Regions from separate parts of the Homo sapiens genome. Here region 2 is linked to region 1. The links come from fine-mapping of genetic effects on gene expression. Tissue or cell type: whole blood. Region 1 holds a variant in brackets; the other region holds the start of a gene. All regions are shown on one strand. Distances are from middle to middle.

What was found. PIP is the estimated chance that this variant, and not a neighbour inherited with it, causes the effect.
Region 2: SEMA7A starts here. The variant in region 1 is fine-mapped to the expression of SEMA7A in whole blood (TOPMed, PIP above 0.99). The same link has a PIP of 0.9 or more in blood mononuclear cells and fibroblasts.

What each region holds. Positions count from the first base shown.
Region 1 is chr15:74,395,112-74,403,210 of GRCh38, forward strand. No RefSeq gene overlaps it. Among named protein-coding and RNA genes, the nearest start is that of MIR6881, 12 kb to the right of the region's middle. RefSeq lists enhancers at 1,150-1,219, 1,240-1,309, 1,360-1,709, 1,391-2,590, 1,760-1,959 and 9 more and a silencer at 7,856-8,065. The variant C/A (reference allele first, on the strand shown) is at 4,960.
Region 2 is chr15:74,430,669-74,438,767 of GRCh38, forward strand. It overlaps SEMA7A (semaphorin 7A (JohnMiltonHagen blood group)), which reads right to left and starts at 3,290. Exons shown (of 14, transcript NM_003612.5): 1 at 3,073-3,290. The coding sequence starts at 3,250. RefSeq lists silencers at 2,453-2,572, 2,723-2,872, 2,923-3,432.

The DNA of each region.
Region 1 (8,099 bases):
AATGTTTTTGATCTTCTGCCATCACAAGTATGCAGCTTGGTGTGTGTGCATCTGTCATATTCGTTCGGGTGTCTCTGTAAGACAGACTCCTGGAAGTGGGATTACTGGGTCAAAGGTAGCTAGTAAAGCACGACGGGCCTTGCCAGCCCAGTGTGCTCCCCACCAGACCCAGGATCTAGCCCCAAGTCTGAGTGATGCAGAATTCACGCCCTCACCTCTGTGCCATCCTGCCTCCTTCAGCAGTAGGGCTGGAGCGCATGGTGAGGGGCCAGTTCTACTTTCTGCCTCAGTCAGGATCGGTCCACTTGAGCGTGATATGTGGGGGCCGAGCCGGGAGGCGTTGGAGCTAGCCGAGGAGATGAGGCCAGCCCCCAAACACTTCCAGAACACTCTGAGCCTTCATGAAGGCTGCAGGAGGGAGCATGGCCTCTTGCCCACATTCTCCCCACCTGGGATCTTCTCTCTGGCGGCTGCCTCTGCCTCCCCATCAGCGCCAGAGCAGGACTGGCAGTGGCACCCCAGGCACCAGTGAGCAGGCTACAGGGTCCGTCCCCACCTAGGGCTGCATGGTCAGACCCCTTGAAGAGGGAATGGCAGAACCTCAAGACCTTGGGTGGAGGGCAGCCCAGGAGAGCCAGCCCCAGGCCATGCCATGGCTCCGTGGCTCATGTGGGCAGCCCCCCACTGGCCCTCACAGAGGCAGAGCTGAGTCAGCAGCCAGGGTCGGGGTGCCTCTGAGGCCCAGGCCTACTTCACTGGGAGGTGTCCCTGCACAGAAGTGAGAGGGCTCAGGAGGGGCCTGGCTCTCTGCCTCTGCTGCTTCAGGAAAAGTCCTGCTCCTTGGCTGAGCCCTCAGGGTCCTTCTCCAGCCCCCTGCCCACCGCCTGCCCTCCGGTCTCCTACACCCCCTCACACTCCAGTCAGTCATGTGGAAATGCTTGCAGTTCTCCACATGGGTTATTCCACTGCCTGCCTCCACGCCTCTGACCACGCAGCTCCTTCTTTTCCAGCTAACTCCCACTTGTCCGCAAAGACAATTCAAGAGTCCCTTGGAGCAGCCTGTTCGCACCTATGCACTCACACAGCACCTTGTTTGTTTAGACCCGCCCAGTGCCTCACAGCAACCCCATCTGGGTTCACTGTCAGAGCTCTGAGCCCACGGGGCTACTCGTCCCAAAGGCATACAGCATGTCCCAACATCTGACTTCGAAGCTGGGACAGGCCTGGCTCCGGGAGGGACAGAGGCTTCTACCTGGGGTAGCTGAGCTGTCCAAAGAAGTTTCAGCCATGTCGAGCCCCTGGCGTTGCCGAAATCCCCCACCCCACGGTGCCACAGCACCAGGGCAGCCCCTAGGAAAAGCCAGCCCCTCAGAGGCCCTGTGCTAAAGACCAGAAATTGCCCCTGGGTCTCCGCAGGAGTTCTGCAATGGGGAAGTGAGCCCTCCTGAGGCCTGGCTGGCAGGAGGCTCTTCAAGGCCAGCATCATGTGGACTTCCCCCAACCACTCGCGTTTCTGCACAGCAGCCACGGAGACCTGGGGGCTGCTGAAAAACGAGATCAGAAGGCAACGTCAGCCTGAGTGGGCTGAAACCTGAGATGAGGAAATGAGAAGACGTCAGGGGGCTGGAGGACATGGGTTTGAGGACAGCCAGCACCCAGCACTGCAGCTGAGGCCTCCTGAGGGAGCCAGAGGGAAAGCAAGTCCCCTCCCTGCGGCCTGAGTCTCTGCCAGTGCCCAGCACTCCCAAAGGATCCACCCCAACCTGAGAGACCCCAAAGACATTGGAGCAGCCCCAGACACCTCCTCCCAGGGCCACAAAGGCCCCTGACAAGCCCACAGCAGTCCAAGGCCTCCAACTGGAGTCATCTTTGGTAAATCTGGGGCCCATCAGCACCCACTGCCCTTCCTGGTGCCCTAAGCATGCTGGCAGGGGGACTGGAAACTGCATCCCAGTTTGCAGTGGGTGTATGTCTCATACACCCACAATACCTGATGTGGGCGTGACTCACCTTGGGGACCTGTGAGTCAATAAGGGTGTATGAGTAAGGGGCAGAGCATTTCAACTTAGTCCCATAGCACATGAGCTCACTAAGCAAACATTACCTATGTCTAGATTTGGGGCCAGTCACTACCCACTGGAGGCTGTGGGCTCCAAGGTATGGCAGCAGGGGAGGCCAGCCAGGCTCTGCCCAGCTTGCCCCTCCTTGTGAGGACGGACCCAGCCAGGCCTCCCGCATCCGCCCTTAGACTGGGGGACCCTGGGTGGGGGTAGAAAGGGGGACTGAAAGTGGTGTCTGGAGTTAAGCCCATCTCCTCATCCCCCACCATGGGGATCAAGATGGGGGCTAAGAGTCACCCCACCACCACCCCAACCCACTCTGAACGCAAAACAGAAGGGGACAAGCAAAACAGAACTGAAACTGGGCAAAGGAGAAACAGGTCTGGGCCCGCCCCAGGGACCTCTGTATCTCACCCCTTACCCATACACATCCTGACCAGGGCCTCTCCCCCAGCCTGGGAAAACCTTTCAAGCTTGGCCCTCTCTCACCTGGGCTCTCTCAGCCTCCTGCCCTCCCCCATCTTCCCTGCTCCCAGCCTCATGCTGCCCCAGGCCTCACCCCATCAGAGCTAAAAGGACCCCAGGCTGGGCATCTGTAGATCAGGGATCTGGTCTCCCTCTGCCACTACCTTTTGGGATGACCTTTGGGAAGTCATTCCCTTCTCTGAGCCACAGTTTCCTCATCTGGCCTGGGCTGTGGGCATAGAATCTGCAGGTGAGGGCTCTAATGGGTGAGTTTCAGGCCAGGCTGAGACTTTTCACATTATAACACTGAGGCACCCAGCACCTTGACTACCACTCATCCTGGGGACTTGGGAAGGGACAGAGGCTGGGATTGGACAGTAACAGCCAAGACCTTCCCAGGGCACAAACGCTGCCTCCCTGAAGCCTGCCCTGACTGTCCATGCAGGTCACTCCCATCACTTCACCTCCTCCTTCCCTCCACTCAGCACCAGCCACCACTGGGTCACATCTATGTCCCTTTGGCTCTGCAAGAGCAGCCTGGACCCCTGCATCCCCTACCCCAGCACAGGCCTGACACCAAGCAGGGGCTCAACAAAATATGTGTTGAAGGCCAGGCACAGTGACTCATGTCTGAAATCTCAGCACTTTGGGAGGCCAAGGCCAACAGATCTCTTGAGTTCAGGAGTTCGAGACCAGCCTCGGTAATGTGGTGAAACCTCATCTCCACAAAAGATACACAAAATTATCTGGGTGTGGTGGCATGCACCTGCAGTCCCAGCTGCGCGGGAGGCTGATGTGGGAGGATTGCTTGAGACCAGGAGACGGAGATTGCAGTGAGCCAAAATTGCACCACTGTATTCCAGCCTGGGTGACAGAGCAAGACCCTGTCTCAATGTCTCTCTCTCTCTCTCTCTCTGTGTGTGTGTGTGTGTGTGTGTGTGTGTGTGTTGAAAGAATAAAGGCAGAGAAAATAACAAGTGTTGGTGAGACTGTGGCAAGATTAGAGCCCTCACACTCTGATGGCGGGGATGTAAAATGGTATCACCTCTGTGGAAAGCAGTTTGTCAGTTGCCCAAAACGTTGAACACAGAGTTACCATGGGATTCTGCAGTCCCACTCCCAGGTAAATAGATGTTCCAAAGAGTTGAAAACATCTGATCACACAAAAACTTGTACACAAATATTCATACAGCGTTATTCTGGATATTATTATAACAGCCGAAAAGTGGGAACAATGTCCATGTCCATCAACTGAGGCACAGATAAGCAACATGGCCTAGCCACACAATGAGCTCTCATTCAGCAGTGAGAAGATGGGGCGTCCTGGTTCAGGCTACCACATGATAACCCCTGAAAACAGTATGCTAAGTGAAAGAAGTCAGACACAAAAGGTGACATGTACAATTCCATTTATATGAAATGCCTAGAAGCTGGATGCAGTGGCTCACGCCTGTAGTCCCAACTATTTGGGAGGCCCAGGCAGGAGGATTACTTGAGCCCAGGAGTTTGAATCCAGCCTGGAAAACATAGCGCGACCTCATCTCTGAATAAATTATTTAATTTAATTTTTTAAAAAATGTCCAGAAGAGACAAATGCATAGAGACAGAAAGTACATTAGTTGGGGGACAAGGAAAGGGGAAGTAACTGCTAACAGGCACGAGGTTTCTTGGGGGTGATGGAATGTTCCAGAGTTAGCTAGAGGTAGGTGTCATAGAGCATTATGAATATACTCAAAACCACTGCAATGTGCATTTTGAAATGGCAAAATTTGTGTTATATGAACCTTTACTCAATAAATACATAAATAAATAAATAATAAATAAATAAATAAATAAATAAATAAATAAAAAGGCAACAACAGCCACCCCAGGGACAGGTTTGGAAAGCCAAACTTGTCTGACTGGCTGGGTGGCTTGTCTATTTGTGTGTTTCTTAAAACAGCATCCTACAGGAGAACTATTCTTTGCTCAGGGAAACCCCCACCCCCTCACTCCACTCCTACCTCGAGACAAGGCCTCTGAGGAGCAGATGGGAGGAGAGGGGCTCTGGGGAAACATAGGGGGCATTGCAGTGGGGTGCTGCCCTCTCCTTGGGCAGGTGCCCCCATGATGAGCAGACTCAAGGTCCAGCTACAGTCCCAGCTCTGGTACAGGTCCTGTCCCTTTCCTCAGTTTCCCCATCTGCAGTCTGCCTCCCGGGGTCTTTCTGAGGTCAGTATGTAGCATGACAGAGCCTGAGAACTGCCAAACTGCCATGTTCTCTCAGAGACCCCTTTTTGGCATGCATTCCAGATGTGGGACCAGAGGTTGGGAAGTTCTTCCTTTGGTCTGACCACAGTATTCCACTTGGAGACAGCAGTGGGAAGAGGCCTTCCACTGAGTCACCCTGACTCAACTTTCATCAGCTTCAGGCCCCCCGTGGGGGTCCTTCCCC[C/A]ACCGGATGCTCACTTTGCTGTAATGGGGCAGGATGTGGGTTCCCTGCTGTGGGAGAGCAGCCCCCACAGCAGCTGCTCCCTAAGATGGTTCTGGCAGGAACCAATGAGAGGAGAAAGCTGATCCTCAACCCCTGCAGGGGCCCTGCAGCCCAAGCAGAGGGCCTCTCAGCCCACCTCGGTCCCAAGTAGGACAGATTGACAGGTGACCTCCCTGTCTCAGAGCCTCAGGGTGTCTTGGAACAAGTGATCCCATCATCTTCCTCTGAGGTCCAAGACTCGGGTGCTAATGGACTCTGTGTAGGGAACCCTGGTCACTGGGGCAGACTCTGTCCCAGACCTGATCTTTGCCATTTTGCCAGAGTGGCCCACCTGACTGCTTCTCTCTGCTGTGTGTATCACTTGTATTAACCGCGAACCCAGCAAAGAGAGCAGGAGCTTGGGCCGGGCACAGTGGCTCACACATGTAATCCCAGCATTCTGGGAGGCTGAAGCAGGTGGATGACTTGAGGTCAGGAGTTTGAGACAAGCCTGGTCAACATGGTGAAACCCCGTATCTACTAAAAATTAAAAAAAAAAAAAAATTAACCAGGCGTGGTGTAATCCCAGCTACTCAAGAGGCTGAGGCAAGAGAATCACTCGAACTCGGGAGGCAGAGGTTGCAGTGAGTCAAGATCGTGCCACCGCACTCCAGCCTAGGCAACAGAACAAGATCCTATCTCAAAAAAAAAAAAAAAAAGTAAAAGTAGAACCCCTGTTTCTTGAGGACAAAGATTAGATGCATCTTTTTGTTGTGAAATTTTGGTAAACTACTTACTCTTTCTCAGCCTCAGTTCTTTGAACTATGAAATGGAGACAATAGTAATAGTATCAACCTCAAAGGGCTGGTGAGAAAACTAACCAAGACAATTCACACAAAGTTTCAGAACAGTCCCGGGCAGGTGCGTGACTTACGCATTTGGCTTTTGTTCACCACTATTACTACTTGCTTATTGAAGCTGAGCCAGGTGGCTGAGCAATGTCCCTTTCTGGCAAGGAGGGTGGAGGCAAGTGTCACATTTCAGAAAGATCCCTGGGCTCCTGTTGAATCTGTCCCCACACCAAAACATGCCCGTGGGGGCTCTAGCTCCTGCCCCAGCAGCGAAAGGGGCTCCTCCTTCTCTGGTGCCCAGTCCTAGCTCACCTGCTCTTCACAAGCCTCCTCCCAGCACAGCCTGCACCACACAGGTGCTCAGTAAGGGGGTTGCTCTGAACAGGGAGCAGGCCCACATGCTGAGAGTGGTGGAGGCGTGCAGGCTCTGATGACCACCTGAACCCAGACTCCAGGGCAGGACAGGTCCTTACAGACCGTAAGGGCTTCCTGCCTACCCTCTTCCCATGCAGTTACCTCAACCCTGGGACACCAGGAAGGTTGAGCATTCCAGGAAAGCCCCGACCCACCCAGGAAACCCAAGTACCTGGTGGGGCCTCATCTGGCCCATTGTCCTGAAAGGACAGGAATAAAGGCTCTCTCCTCATGGCCACACACCCTAGGGACGTCCAGCCTCCAGCTTTCTGTGGGTGGGGCAAATGACTGAGGAGGCTTCCCTCCCTGCAGGCGCCTCCCTCTGGGGCCTCCTGTGGTCCAGTCGTCCCTGGTCCCCAGCTCTCAGGTGGGTCATAGGGCATCTCAGCAGGACCACCAGGAAGAGCATCAGGAGGGGAAGGAGCCAGAGAGCCCTCCAGGCCAGTGCACTGCTAACTCAACATCTCATCTTCCTATCTCGTCCCTTCTGCTCACCTCCGGAGACTCCCCCTCCCCTCTCATGCTCTTCACTGGCAGGTTATGATGGCCCAGAGATCCCCACCAGAGTCCCAGATATCAGTGGGGATCCCAGCCTATTCCTCCAAGCTCCCAGTTGCCAGTGACAGGGAGGCAGAAACAGCCTGGAAATTAACTGTGGGTTCTCCCTGAGCCTGTGGATACATGGAAAGAGAGCTTCACCACCACCCCCTTCTCTGAATATACATACAGGATCTGAGGAGGGAGGATTCTGTGTGGATGCATGTGTGCACAGATGTGCATGTTTGTACGTGTGTATGGGTGAGCAGGTCATACGTGTGGTCCCATGTGCCCACCTGTTGTATATATGCATGCTTGTTTTGTGTAAGTGAGCATAAGAGGTCAAGCCAGAGAGAGAAATAGGAACAAGGAGAGACAGAGAGAGAGAGAATAGAAACAGAGACCAACAGGGAAACAGAATGAGACTGAGACAGAGAACAACAGAAGGCCAGACAGGTAGACAAGCCACAGTTCCATCTTCCCTGGTGCTGGCTGCCAAGGCAGACAACTCTCCTCTCACTTCATTGATGTTCTGCCTGTGTTTATACCCATGATTGGGGTGGAGTTCAGGAAAGGATGTATCAGGGCTAGGACGCCCCCACCTCCACACTCACAGGGCCAGTCAGGGCCCTCTGCAGGGGCTGCCATTTCCTCAAGCTGAGGAATGGGCTTGGATCCCTCGGATGCCTTCCAGGGTGCAGGGGCGCTCCCAGTGACTGGGCTCTTGTGGTGGCTGGGGAGGGGGAGCTCCTCTGACAGGCCCCATGCTGGGGGAAACGTCCTGAGACTGACCTATCACGGGCTGACATGCACACCAAGGAGGTCTCACATCTGCTGGGAAATGAGGGGCTGGTGGAGGTGAGAAAACCTCAAGTTCTAATGCCTTCCCAACACCTTCACCTCACCTGAGAAGCTTCTAGATTCCACCCACCCCTGTTTCCTTGGGGGAGGGTGTTGTGTGGAGGTGGGAAGAGGCAGGAGTCCAGGTTCTAGGCCAGGCTCTGAAGGGGCAGGTAGCTCAGAGCAAGAGGCTGGCCTTGCACCTGCTCTGCCTAATGGGACAGTAATGCCCACGATGGCATTCCGCCTCTGAGGGCTGTGGTGAGGCTGTGGAGAGATGTCAGGGACAAGAAAAGGCCTTGGAAACCAGCTGTGGGAAGAACAGCCCATGAGCTCAGCATTTCCCCTGGCTTCCCCGAAAGCCGGCCCCCAGGAGAGGAAGGTGACTGTGACTTCTGCCGCCACCACTTCCTGCAGCTGGGACCCTGCTCACTCAGAATGTGGAACCGTCATGGGCCAGCAGTGTCACCTGCACACTCA
Region 2 (8,099 bases), 36 kb after region 1:
AAACTCCCCCTCTCCTCCGGGGAATTGCCCCCCCACCATGAGACTCTGTGGAGGGAGTTCACCTTGAAGGTGATGAACACATCTAAGTCCCCAAGGGGGCAAGGATTTCCACTGGAAATGCTGATGCTTGGGAAGCCCCAGATGTGACCTCATCCCCTGGAGGAGGTAACAACAACCTCCTGCCCTGGGGAGCAGCCCCAGAATGGCTCCCCAGCAGCCACCAAGTCAACAATAACATCCCGTTGTTTCACTGGACAAAAGCGAGGGAGGGCAGAACCAGCCGGGCAGGTTGAGACTGGGGATATGGGTTCTGTTTCCCCATGGACAGGCTGGTTCACCTCTGACCTTGGGGTTCCAAGCCTTCTTTAGCTCCTCCAACCACTGATAAAATGGAAGAGGGGTGCACAGCTTACAAACGCATGCCAACCTCCTGCTAAGCCCCAGCCCTCACCTGCAATCTACTCCCTTACAGTTCCTGCTTACAGGAAGATCAGGACCACACATGCACATCCTTGACTGGCCCATGTGTCAGTGACAGCCCTTGGGGGACAATCCCTACAGCCTTTCTTGCTCTGGCAGGCTCTAAGGGTCAAAGACAAGTGTGGAGCTCAAGGACACCCAGCAGGTACATGATGGCCCATCTCTCTCCCTGGCCTGAGCTACGCTGTGCCAGACTTTCATCAAGCTGCAGAGGCAGCAATCTCCCTGATCAGTGCAGGCTGGGCCCCTCTCAGAGTTCCCTGCTTTAATCTTTCTCTAGAACTTGGGGATCCAAGCAGCAGAAAATAAAGAACTTTCCATACCTATTCCAGTCCCCACAGCTGTCCTGACTCAAAACTAAAACCCCCATCTATGCCTCATAGAGAAATGGCTCCAGAACCACCACCATCCCTGATTTTGTCATTCCTGGATACCACCATACTCCCACCCACCACTGGTAGACAGAGCTCTAGGCTTCCAGAAAGACCCCCTCTTACCCTGTTCCTGGGTTTGTCCTACCCAAGCCCATTCCTGTCCGATTGCCATGTGTCACCCCACAGGAGACAGGAGGCAGCTGTCAGTCGGGCACACCATCACCAGCTGGTGGCCCTGGGGGTGGGGGGCAGGTGAATGGCAGGGCCTGTCTGGCCAGTGGGGCACCTGGCACTGGTGAAGGAGACCACAGACTGTCGTTGGACAAGACTGGTGAACGGTTGGCAGACCCCAGCCAGCGGGGCTCAACAGTGCATTACTAAGCAGAGGGCACAGCCAGTGTGGCTACAGCAGTGAACTGCGGGCGGGGGGGTAGGCCATGGAGCTGTGCTGGGAGCTTCGAAAAGTGGGTAAGAGGACTGAAAGCAACTTTAAATAGCCTCAGGGTGGGAACTAAGTGCCCAGGATGGGATGTATGCATTAAGTGCTAAGAAGTGGGTGTGCATTAAGTGGGGTGGGGGTGGGGGGTCATGGGAAGACTTTGGGACAGGCAAACAGAGTCAAAATGCAAGGGGTTTGATGGAGGGAAAGATTCCAGAACACTCAGATGTGGCCATTTGTCCCCTCCAGAGTGCCCACACGCTATGATGTCCAAGACAGCCAAGGAGACTGAGGGAAGGCAAAGCTGCTGGGAGGGCAAAGGAAGCTTGGGCTGGAGCTGGGATGGCAGAGGGGTGTGCAGGCCTCCTCCATGTACAGGCGGCCGGAGCTCTAGCAGCACTGCTCGGCTTCCTCCAGGAGCACCTCAGGCTGGGTAGCCGAGCTGGTCCCCAGAGCACCTCATTCATGGTCCCTGAACCACCTAAATCCTTCTCCCCTCCCTAACCCAGAACCTGGACTGGTCCTGTGCCAGATCAGAGCCCCTGCCTGCACCTGGGCTCCCACACTGCTCAGTGACCTTGGGCAAGTCACATTCCCTCAGCTACTGCGGCAGTTCGGGCCACTCGTTTTGTGTATGGTTTTTTTTCCCCTCTGCTAATAATACCTGCCCCAGATAATGCTCAGACTCCCGCAATCCCTGCAAACTGCCAAAGGCATCAAAAGGCTCCCGGTGGGGCCAGACCCGACCAGTTCCCCCAGCCCCCACTGCGAGTCCCCCACCATCACGACAGGGGGGCCGCAGACACGCCAAATTTGGGGACAGAGCCGAATCGGACTGGGGGCGGGGAGGCATTTGTGTGCAATGCAGGGGAGGGGAGATCAGTTCCTCGCGGCAGAAAGCCTCAAACCCCCGCCTAACCGGCTTTCTGTCCCATAGTACAGGGTCTAAACTGAGGTGCCCTGGGGGAGACTCCAGTCCCCCAGGTTCTTATTATCTACCCTGGCCTAAAGGCTGCACCCCCGCCCTAGATCCACCGCCTGGGGGTCCCAACGGCCGTGCCCCACCCAACGGGCACTGCCCCCCAACGCTGGAGCCGATTTCTGGTGACAACTGCCACGTGCGGGCAAGGGGGGAGCGGCCGGTCCCGGCATTGCTGAGGCAGCGCCCTGGTACCCCAAGCCGCCGCACCGCACCATGTCCCGCCGCTCGCTGCAGGATGCCCACCCCCTTGCCTGGCCCGAGCTCCGGGCCGGGGCGGGGGCGGGGGCAGGCGGCGGGGTCTTTGTTCCCGCTGCCGAAGCGCGGCGGCGGCGGCAAGGGGTCCGCGCCCCCCTTGCCGGCCCAGCCTGCGCCCCGCGCGCCAGCAGAGCCCGCAGCTCAAAAGGAGGGTACCCGGGTTGGGGTCCCAGGCGGGGAAAGGTCCTCCGCCGAAGCCCCCGAGCCAGAGGACCCAGAGTGGCTCGGGGCCGAGAGAGGGGCCCGCCCCCTCCCCTGGCGCCCGGGCGTTGCGGCTCCTGGCTGCCAGGGACTTGGTGCGACTTAGCCGGGGCTCCGGCCCCCGCCGCTCGCTCGCCGCAGCGTTACAGCCGGCTCTGGTGTGCCAGCGTGTACACTCACACACACTCACCCAAACCCACACGCTCCACGCGGGGACAGCGCGGGGACAGCCCGGGACCCGCAGAGCTGCGCGCACGCACTCCCTCCGGGTGCAGCACACTCCGCACCCGCCCCGCGCAGCGTCTGATCCCGCGCCTGACCGGCCGCGCGGCGCCGCCTACCTTTCCAGACGGCGAAGATGCGGGGTCCGCTCCTTAGGTGGCCCTGGGCGGAGGCGGCGGCCGCCCAGAGCAGCAGCAGCAGCCGCAGCCGCAGCGGAAGCCCCAACCGAGCCGGCGGGCCAGGGACGCGGGCGCGCGGTGCGCTGGGGGCGGCACGTCCGGGCGGAGGAGGCGTCATCCCGTGGCCCCGGGAGCGACAGCGGCAATCAGCCGAGACTGAGCCAGCGCCCGGCCGCAGGCAGACCCAAGCGCCAGGAGGCGGAGCCAGCGCTGACCCCACCCCGCCCCTCCCCCCGCCCCTCGCAGCCTTTTCTCGCCTCACTGGCTTTCCTGAGCGAGAGCGGAACTGCTGGGGGAACCTTCGCCACCCTCTCCCGGGCAACTCTACGGGGAAAGCCCAGCTGCGGACAAGCCAGACTTGTGGTCTTCTGCCAGGGGCGGCAGGCCCTATCCCCTCTCTGGGCCTCAGTTCCACTCCCCGCACCCCGTAAAAAGATTGGCGTAGAAGTCGTGGAGGACCTCTCTCCAAGGGCGCAGAGGAGTCCAACACCCAACAACCTTGCTATGGCCAGCTAAGTGGTTCGCACCCTGAGGACTATGGTCCTCGGAGGATGCGTTCGCCTAAGTGGACACGGCTCCCTGCTGAGCCTACCAGCAGGCACAACGATGATATGTGGGGAGCACTCAGGGACCCGCTGTTGCTTTGCCTGGGAGAACACTGGAAATTTTTCATCTTGGCCTGGCTCCTTCCCCTCCCTCTCCTTTCTCCTCCCTTTCCCAGCCAGCAGCCTTCTGGGCTGCCTCCCCCCAAGCCAGCTGGTGTACGCTCAGAAAATCCAAACTCATTTCCATGTGAGTGGAGGGGGATATAATTAGGAAGGCCCCTTCCCCAAGTAGAGAGGGGAGCATCCCCCGTGCCCCACTCACTGTGGGGGAGGGAGGGTCAAAGCAGCTTAAGGGGATCTCTGCCCGCAAAGTGCCTAGGGCTCAGCTATCTCAGGCAACCTGACCATTCAGTGGGGACTCCCTTGGGGGGTCCAGGCCCAGACCCTCTGCAGTTACCTGAGCAGTCCAGCCAGCTCTGCCATCAGCTCCTCCTCTCAGAACTACGTGCCTGCCCTTTGTAAAAGGGTCTCCTCTCTCTAGACCAGACAGGGCCCAGACCTACCACTTCCACTTGTGCCCCAGGGAACCATGAATGGAAAATCCACCCAGCTCAGTAAGTACTTATCTAGTGTTTACTGGATGTCTAGCTGCACTGAGAGGAGACAGGCCGAGGAAGGAGTAGAGGTGAACATCCAACCTTCAGAACTCACAGACCTAGACACGATTCACGCACTGCAGACACCAGCAAAGGCGGTGGGCTGGCTGCCCTCTGCCCTCTGCCCTGCTCCATGGGGCCAGGACCATTTGGTTGTTGTTTTTACCTCCTGGAACCAGGAAAGTTTTGCTACCAAGAAGTTTGGCTTTACCATTCTACATTTTGCTTCCAGTTGTCCCCTCCTTCTTCCCTCAGAGTCCTGAGGCACCCCAGCAGGCCAGGAAGGTAAACTCAAGGTACCTCCAGAGACAGTGCAGAGTGAGGTTCCTGGCCCACTGGGTGAAGCCAACAGCCTCCTGATACACAGGGGCACACTGCCCCAGAGAGGGAGGCTGTGGACAGTCTAAGAGCTCCTCCTCAGGCCTGCACCTAAGCCTGTGGCCCTGAAGCCAGCAGTGGAGCCTGGCCCAGGCCAGCCTCTAAGATGGACATTCGGTTTCACCTGCTAGACAGGTATTGCCCTCAGTGTCTGTCCTCTCTATGCAAAGCTAGGGCAAACTAAGAAATCACCTGTCTCTGCCTTTTGGAACTAAGAATTCAAATGGATTCAAAATCAATGATAACACTGCCCATGTGCATGGCAACTCACAACACATAACCCACATTCACCTACCTCATCTCTGCCAGTCCTCCACTCTCTTCCTCTCACTGAGGGAGGGAGCGTAACTCCACTGCAGAGAAGAAAACTGAGGTACAGGGAGGGACAAGGACGGACCTGCCCGAGGTCAACCGGTAAATGGTAGAACGAAGATGGGTTTTCTGACTGCAATAACAATTGCTAACACTGTGGTTCCTATGTGCTGTGCCATCTCATAGCCTCTCCCAACTCATTCAATCTTCGCACTCCTATGAGATAGGAGCTATTAGTCACCTCCCTTTACAAATGAAGAAATCAAGGCACAGACAAGGGATGTGAAGTGCCAGGATCGCACAACTAGAGGCAGGACGGATTGAAACTCAGGTGGTTTCTCAAGGACCCACACCCTTGACTTCTCTCTGTGTGATGTACCCTGGCACTGCTGCCTCCTGTCTGTGGCTGAAGTCTGGGTCCAAACCATCCCCAGAAGGACCTAGATAGGGCCCAGGTCACCAGGTGCTGAGTAGGAGGGCAGACCAGGGAATGGGCTCAATCTCCCAATCAACAGAGTAGCAGATGGAAACTGGGGTAGATGCCAGATAATTTTTTTTCCAGACTGGGGGGTAGGGGGGAAGGAAGTAGTACTTAAGACCATCCTCCCCACAAGCCAGCCAACCTGGGGACAAAGGGCCAGGCGAGATGGCAGCCCACTCTCTCGGTTGGCTGCAGGCAGCCAGGGGAGGAGAGAACTAAGCCCATGACTTGAGGCAATAACTTTATAAAGGGAAAGGCAGCTAGACTGTGGGGCAGGCACTATGACCAGAGTTTAGGCATGGACTTTCCTGCCTCAGGCAGCATAGGAAAATCAAGTCAGAATGGTATAGGTGGTGTCAGAGGCCTGCCTGCCTCATTGGAGGCCAAGGCTGGCTCTTGAGCCTGGACCAAGAACAGGGGCACAATTCCCACTCACAGCCAGTGATGGGAAGTGGACCAGCAGAGGAAGCAACACATGTGGATGCTGACACGTCTGATGGGGAGGCACATTCTTGTCCCTCCCTTCTCCATGATTCCACATTCAGGGGAGGGAGGAAGAAATGATGCAGGGCTTCTATCGATAAGAAAAATACCTTGAGAAGGATCACTTCCTGAGCCCCATGGACAGCTGAGGCACAGCCCAATCCAAGAAGGCTCCTTTTGGAATGAAAGAAATGGATACACACAGACCTGAGATTCATGGTCTTGAAGCAGTGGCAGAAGCCCCGGGCAATCCCCCCAACATTCCAACTAAAGCCTCTCACCTTTCAGGGTCCAACTTAACTCATCCTTCCATTCTCCAGAGTTATCTGACCTCCTCCTCAGCCCTGATTCCATGGCTACACATGGCCTTCACAGGAGTGACCCACCTCAAACAAGAGGCCTGTGGGAGATAGAAGGATTCCGTGAGGAGATAACATATGCAGACGTGAGGTCACCCACACACAGTTCACTTCCTTTCACAGATACGATGATCCAAGAATCCCAATTCTTAGGATTAGAAGTAGCTCTCAGAGGGCATTCAATCCCCAACAGCCCCCTCCATGCTAGATCCCACCCCTTCTTTGAGGCCTCAGAGCTTGGTGGCCATTCAGACCTCCTGGCTACTAACAGCAGCAACAATTCCTATTGCCTACCACCATTACTACCTATTGCAGGGGGCAGAGACTTGGAACTGATGAGAACGAGGGGAGTGGGTGGGCTGGGGTCTGCAGAACCCTGTGCTGTCTATAAGGCAATTTCGACTCAGCTCCAGCCCATGGAACCATGAAGAAGTAAACCCAGTAGTGAAAGGTAGTATGATTTTCAAGAGAAGCTGAAAATTGAGGGCTGGGCACGGTGGCTCATGCCTGTAATCCCAGCACTTTGGGAGGCCAAGGCAGGTGGATCACCTGAGGTCAGGAGTTCAAGATCAGCCTGCACAATATGGTGAAACCCCATCTCTACTAAAAAATACAAAAATTAGCCGGGCATGGTAGCGAGCGCCTGTAATTCCAGCTACTTGGGAGGCTGAGGCAGGAAAATCACTTAAACCCAGGAGGCGGAGGTTGCAGTGAACCAAGATCGCACCACTGCACTCCAGCATGGGACACAAGAGTGAAACTCTGTCTCAAAAAAAAAAAAAAGAAAAGAAAAGAAAAAAGAGGCCAGGGGTGGTGGCTCACGGCTGTAATCCCAGAACTTTGGGAGACCGAGGTGGGTGGATCACAAGGTCAATGATTTCTGTCCTAATCATTCTACATGCATTTTTATCTGACAAGGTCAGGAGTTCGAGACCAGCCTGGCCAAAATGGTGAAACCCCATTTCTACTAAAAATGTAAACATTAGCCGGGCATGGTGGCACGCAACTGTAATCCCAGCTACTTGGGAGGCTGAGGCAGGAGAATCACTTGAACCTGGGAGGTGGAGGTTGCAGTGAGCTGAGATTGCGCCATTGCACTCCAGCCTGGGTGACAGGGCGAGACTCCATCAAAAAAAAGAAAAGAAAATTGACTCTTTGTTGAAACTCTCTCTTTTAAAATATTGGCAAATAATTCAAAAGTTAAGGAGGATGGATATGGGCAAATAAAAACAGGTCTGGGGCCCATATCTGGGACCCCCAACATACCATGTGCCCACTGTGACTATCTCACAGGCACAGGCACGACAGTCACTATACCTGGCCCAACTCTTGGCAGACCATGTCAGGCAAGGAGTGCCAAGAAGACACTTCTCAGGCTGCCCAGGCCATGCCTCACCCTCCCCTCAGTGCTCTGCCTGCCTCCAAACCTCAGCCAGGACATTCCCCTCAAGTGCCTGCCTCTTCCTCCTAGACCAGTTCAGAGATCACCACCTTCCATACATCAGTTCAGCCCACTGTGAATGGAGAACTTCTCAGAACTGCCACCACCTTCTTAGCCCTGAGGGTCGTGCTCCCAGCAGCATCCCATGCCTACATCTCTGCTTTCTATCCTAATCATTCTACGTGCATTTTTATCTGATCAACCCTACCTAAATTGCTAAGATCTAAGTAGGGCCAGCCAAGTTAAGTAAGACAAAGGAAAAATCCAAAGAGGAATATTCAGTCAGCAGAGAAGAGACAGATTTTTTTTCCT